2 linked regions of the Homo sapiens genome follow. The protein of the gene in region 1 interacts with the protein of each later gene in a pairwise test. Each region holds a gene or a part of one and is shown in the gene's direction. Other genes may lie near its edges.

The links.
Region 2: the proteins of ART3 (region 1) and ALCAM interact in a two-hybrid assay, tested with the Homo sapiens proteins (one large-scale study listed by BioGRID and IntAct).

Annotation. Positions count from the first base shown.
Region 1 is NC_000004.12:76,081,104-76,084,937, forward strand, and holds part of ART3 (ecto-ADP-ribosyltransferase 3 isoform a precursor), read left to right. Parts: intron 1-720; coding exon 721-1,432; intron 1,433-3,834.
Region 2 is NC_000003.12:105,575,096-105,577,675, forward strand, and holds the end of ALCAM (CD166 antigen isoform 1 precursor), read left to right. Parts: 3' UTR 1-1,805; downstream 1,806-2,580. UniProt on the Homo sapiens protein: Cell adhesion molecule that mediates both heterotypic cell-cell contacts via its interaction with CD6, as well as homotypic cell-cell contacts. Promotes T-cell activation and proliferation via its interactions with CD6.

The DNA of each region.
Region 1 (3,834 bases):
CCAGCGTCTAAAGTATGTTTTCGGGTCCTCATCTCTACCTCTCAGCTCAGCAAGCCTTATTTGTTGCTTTATTTTAAGACAGAATTCTCCATGGGACTAAAGAATAACTGTTGGAAGCCCTAGGCCAATATTATCCTTAGAGCTTACAGCTTTAGAGGAAGAAAGATCCATTTTTTTCCTCTGGGAGCTCTGATTGCTAGACTTTAGATCACCTGCTTATCCAGGAGGTGCAAAATCATTTCTACCCAGGCCATATGGACAAGGGAGGGGGCAACCCCAAAGGAAAAGGGTAATGTTTGTCATTATGTGTTATAGATCATGAATAATATTTTGCATATGATACTTCAAATTCCCAACAGCCTTGAAGGGTTGAAGAAATCTAGCTAAGATGTTCAAAGCCAGGACTGCCACCCATTTCTTTAGCTTCACATCCATTGTTCTTTGCTCTGTGCCATAATGTCCAGATAAATGAGCTACAGGCACAATCTCACCCATACCTCTCACCCACTGACATTTACTCTTTCACACAAATATGGCACAGCTGAGAAAAGTTATCAATAGCAATGGAATATACTTCCTGCATAAAAACCTACCCAAAATTGGTTATAAGTCAGGCGAGAATTTTGGCAAGGGATGAGAAGGTGGGGGTAATAATGTGAGAGAAAATGATATTCACTGAATTTCTTATTTCAAGAGTATTAATTTCTTTTTCCTTTGAAGGTGAAGGCTGAAGTGTTAGACATGGCAGATAATGCATTTGATGATGAATACCTGAAATGTACGGACAGGATGGAAATTAAATACGTTCCCCAACTGCTAAAGGAGGAAAAAGCAAGCCACCAGCAATTAGATACTGTGTGGGAAAATGCAAAAGCCAAATGGGCAGCCCGAAAGACTCAAATCTTTCTCCCTATGAATTTTAAGGATAACCATGGAATAGCCCTGATGGCATATATTTCCGAAGCTCAAGAGCAAACTCCCTTTTACCATCTGTTCAGTGAAGCTGTGAAGATGGCTGGCCAATCTCGAGAAGATTATATCTATGGCTTCCAGTTCAAAGCTTTCCACTTTTACCTCACAAGAGCCCTGCAGTTGCTGAGAAAACCTTGTGAGGCCAGTTCCAAAACTGTGGTATATAGAACAAGCCAGGGCACTTCATTTACATTTGGAGGGCTAAACCAAGCCAGGTTTGGCCATTTTACCTTGGCATATTCAGCCAAACCTCAGGCTGCTAATGACCAGCTCACTGTGTTATCCATCTACACATGCCTTGGAGTTGACATTGAAAATTTTCTTGATAAAGAAAGTGAAAGAATTACTTTAATACCTCTGAATGAGGTTTTTCAAGTGTCACAGGAGGGGGCTGGCAATAACCTTATCCTTCAAAGCATAAACAAGACCTGCAGCCATTATGAGTGTGCATTTCTAGGTGGTAAGTGTCTGCTCTGTCTGTGCTTGGCTGGGAGGGAAGGAGTGGGATTCTTAGGCTTAGGGAAAGGTCAGTGAAAGGAGAGTGAGAGGTGTTTGAAAGGTGAAATGACATTCCGTCTAGCTTCTTTCATACTATCTCTTTACCCATAGTTAATTTTATGAAAATTGTACATTTACAGTATTATTAAAAGTTAAAAAAAATTAGCACTATAAGGCAGTGGTTCTTAACCAAAGGCAGTTTTGCCCTGCAGGGTCATTTGGCAATGGTCAGAAACATTTTTGGTTGTCACAGTTGGGGAAAAGGGGGATTGCTACTGACATCTAATGGGTAGAGGCCAGAAACACTGATAGACAATGCATAGGACAGCCCCACACAACAAAGAATTATATGGCCCAAAATGTTGGTAGTGCTGATGTTGAGAGACCCTACTATAAGGCTTACAATAAATAAATAGTGCAGCCTGGGAAACATAGGGAGACCACCATTTCTGCTAAAATAAAAATAAATTAAAAATTAGCCAGGCATGGTGGCACATGCCTGTGGTCCCAGCTGCATGGGAGGCTGAAGTGGGAGGATTGCTTGAGCCCAAGAAGTCCAGGCTGTAGTGAGCTGTAATCACACCACTGCACTGCAGTCTTGCAGCAGAGCAAGACCCTGTCTCAAAAAAGAAGAAAAAGAAAAATAGCAGTCGCCAGCCCCACCTTTCCTCAATTTCCACTCCTCAGTGGCATCCAGTTTTCATTCTTTTAGCTATTTCTTCAGGTGCTTACTGTCATGTTTCCAAGTAAATAACATGCTTCAACATGTTATTTCTTGGTTTTTAAATCTTTAGACATCATGTATTGACTTCCTACTACAGAGAATGAGTATGTAACCCTCATCTACCGTGTATTAGTTAAGAATTTTTTATGTGTTCAGCTGTAAATAACAGAAAACCTGACTGAGCTTTCATTTAATAAGTCTTAGAGGCAGGCTGTTCAGAGTCAGCGCAGTGGCTCATCCATGTCATGTCACTCATGCTCTTTCTTTCTGTTCCACCATCCTTACCATGTTTTGTTTGTTGATTCATGTTTGCACTTGTGACTGTTGCAGCTCTAGGCATCAATCCATGTCCAAGACAAAAAGAAAGTAAAGGGGATGACAGCCAAATCTACTTGTTCAGTAAGGAAAGTAAAAGTTTTCCCAGAAACCCTTACTAAACTCCTGATTACAGGTCATTGACTTGAACAGTTTCTTGGTCACCCATAGCTACCAGAGAAGCTTGGGAAGGGGGTAATTATCCTTTCTCCAGCCAAGGGAATATAGTGTGTGGGGGAGACAAAGGAAAAGGGAATTAGAAATGGCTGTTAGATCAGTAAACCAAAAGTTTCTGAAAGCCAACACCCTCCTTCCCAATGTACGTCCATTTCCCCCTTCCCATTCTCCCAGCATAGTAAAGACAGGTCATAGCTCAGTTAGAGTGGTTTTTCTGTGCTTAAATCCCTCTTTTACCCCAGGGTTATTCTATGATTTTTTTGTTTGTTTCCTTAGTTTTTTTAATATCCAATCAGTAATTCACCTCCAAATCCTTTGACAGAAATATAAATTTCTTCTTTCCCCTGGATAATTCCCTCATCATACTGCTCTATGATAAGCTCTTTAGGCCTGCTGAACATCCTGAAATCTCTCATTACCATTCTGAGATATTGCTTCTTCCCTATGAGAGATCTCCTATTTCTTGGATTTGCAACTCTTTCTTGGATTACTACTTTGTTTGGTGTGGTGGGGATGGGGGTTCTGCAGAAGTTTCGGAGAAATGGTCCACTAAAGAAAATTTTCTAAGTCTCTGCATCTCTGAGAGATCTGCCTTTAAGCTTGATTAATAGTTTATGTAGATTTGCATTTCTATTTTAGAAACTATTTTTCCTTGGAATTTTGAAGATATTCCTCCAGTGACTTCTAGGTTCTGTAGCTGTTGTTGAAAGGTATGAAGCCATTCTAATTACTAAAACTTTGAATAAGACTTTTTAAAAACAAAAATCTGGAAGGTTTTAGGTTGTTTTCTTTATTCCCAACATTCTGAAATTTTATGGTGTTGTGCCTTAGTGTGTGTGAGCAAAGGGTTAGTAAACTCCTTCTCCTGTCTTCTGTGAAAATGGCCTCCTGGTGATCTTCCAGCACTCTCTCTGCAATCTATGAAAGGTGGAATGACAGCTGTGTGACCTTACAGCATTGCCTGTGGTAAACATAACCCTTGATTGGTAAAGTGCATCTGAGCTGGGAGGATTGTGAATGAACTATAAATACTTGAGGAGAAGCCATAGCTTTGGGCTTTCCTGAATGTGGTGTGACATACCCAGGTGTTCTTCTTGTTGAGTCCTGGAAGGACAGCAGTACTCTCGTACCAATCCTGCATAGGTTCA
Region 2 (2,580 bases), on another chromosome or scaffold:
GATGCATATAGACACACATACATAATGGTACTCCCAAACTGACAATTTTACCTATTCTGAAAAAGACATAAAACAGAATTTGGTAGCACTTACCTCTACAGACACCTGCTAATAAATTATTTTCTGTCAAAAGAAAAAACACAAGCATGTGTGAGAGACAGTTTGGAAAAATCATGGTCAACATTCCCATTTTCATAGATCACAATGTAAATCACTATAATTACAAATTGGTGTTAAATCCTTTGGGTTATCCACTGCCTTAAAATTATACCTATTTCATGTTTAAAAAGATATCAATCAGAATTGGAGTTTTTAACAGTGGTCATTATCAAAGCTGTGTTATTTTCCACAGAATATAGAATATATATTTTTTTCGTGTGTGTTTTTGTTAACTACCCTACAGATATTGAATGCACCTTGAGATAATTTAGTGTTTTTAACTGATACATAATTTATCAAGCAGTACATGAAAGTGTAATAATAAAATGTCTATGTATCTTTAGTTACATTCAAATTTGTAACTTTATAAACATGTTTTATGCTTGAGGAAATTTTTAAGGTGGTAGTATAAATGGAAACTTTTTGAAGTAGACCAGATATGGGCTACTTGTGACTAGACTTTTAAACTTTGCTCTTTCAAGCAGAAGCCTGGTTTCTGGGAGAACACTGCACAGCGATTTCTTTCCCAGGATTTACACAACTTTAAAGGGAAGATAAATGAACATCAGATTTCTAGGTATAGAACTATGTTATTGAAAGGAAAAGGAAAACTGGTGTTTGTTTCTTAGACTCATGAAATAAAAAATTATGAAGGCAATGAAAAATAAATTGAAAATTAAAGTCAGATGAGAATAGGAATAATACTTTGCCACTTCTGCATTATTTAGAAACATACGTTATTGTACATTTGTAAACCATTTACTGTCTGGGCAATAGTGACTCCGTTTAATAAAAGCTTCCGTAGTGCATTGGTATGGATTAAATGCATAAAATATTCTTAGACTCGATGCTGTATAAAATATTATGGGAAAAAAAGAAAATACGTTATTTTGCCTCTAAACTTTTATTGAAGTTTTATTTGGCAGGAAAAAAAATTGAATCTTGGTCAACATTTAAACCAAAGTAAAAGGGGAAAAACCAAAGTTATTTGTTTTGCATGGCTAAGCCATTCTGTTATCTCTGTAAATACTGTGATTTCTTTTTTATTTTCTCTTTAGAATTTTGTTAAAGAAATTCTAAAATTTTTAAACACCTGCTCTCCACAATAAATCACAAACACTAAAATAAAATTACTTCCATATAAATATTATTTTCTCTTTTGGTGTGGGAGATCAAAGGTTTAAAGTCTAACTTCTAAGATATATTTGCAGAAAGAAGCAACATGACAATAGAGAGAGTTATGCTACAATTATTTCTTGGTTTCCACTTGCAATGGTTAATTAAGTCCAAAAACAGCTGTCAGAACCTCGAGAGCAGAACATGAGAAACTCAGAGCTCTGGACCGAAAGCAGAAAGTTTGCCGGGAAAAAAAAAGACAACATTATTACCATCGATTCAGTGCCTGGATAAAGAGGAAAGCTTACTTGTTTAATGGCAGCCACATGCACGAAGATGCTAAGAAGAAAAAGAATTCCAAATCCTCAACTTTTGAGGTTTCGGCTCTCCAATTTAACTCTTTGGCAACAGGAAACAGGTTTTGCAAGTTCAAGGTTCACTCCCTATATGTGATTATAGGAATTGTTTGTGGAAATGGATTAACATACCCGTCTATGCCTAAAAGATAATAAAACTGAAATATGTCTTCACAGGTCTCCCACAGCTGTCTGACTCTTGTCTAAAGTAGAATGTTCATGTGTGGAAAGTGATTGTCTTTATCAAATAGTGGAAAACTCACTGTGACTCTCCATCTTTCCAGAGAAGGAGTGCAGAAAAATAAAATTCACCATGCCTTCCTACTAGGTCAGGTGGGCTACCTTAGCTAGTCCCTAGATTTCACCAGTGATAGATTCTATAATGCATCTGTCTTCAAAGATAGGATCATACTTACTCTTGGGTGTCCCATGTAACTCTCCTAGGACCTTAATTACGAGAACATTTTCATATTTGTTCACTTCTGCCAATAACATTCTATTCAGATTGTCATTTGGAATTACCCAGGCCTGAACTTTCAGAAAATATATTCCCTCCAAAATAAGGTAAAGCCAGCTGTGTACATAAGAGAAGGAAATTAACATTTATTGAGCCCATACTATGTGCTAGGGTCATTCATACATTAACGCTTAACAGTTAACAGTTGTAAATAGTACTAAATATCCCCCTCATTTAACAGCTGAAAACCTGAGGTTTAGAGAAACTTCATAATTCCCAAATGCCGTTAGCTTCAAAGTAGATAAGTTGGGTATCAAACTAGATCTGAATCCTTGCCCCAACCTACGTACTTCCCTAAGTTCCTCTAAAGAATGCTCCTTTTCATAATATGTAAAATTGGAAAACGTTAATTGACACATGGACGGGTTATACCATTGATAAAAGGATTATTCTGAGATATTTAAATCATTCAGAAGGGCAAAATTGCATAAT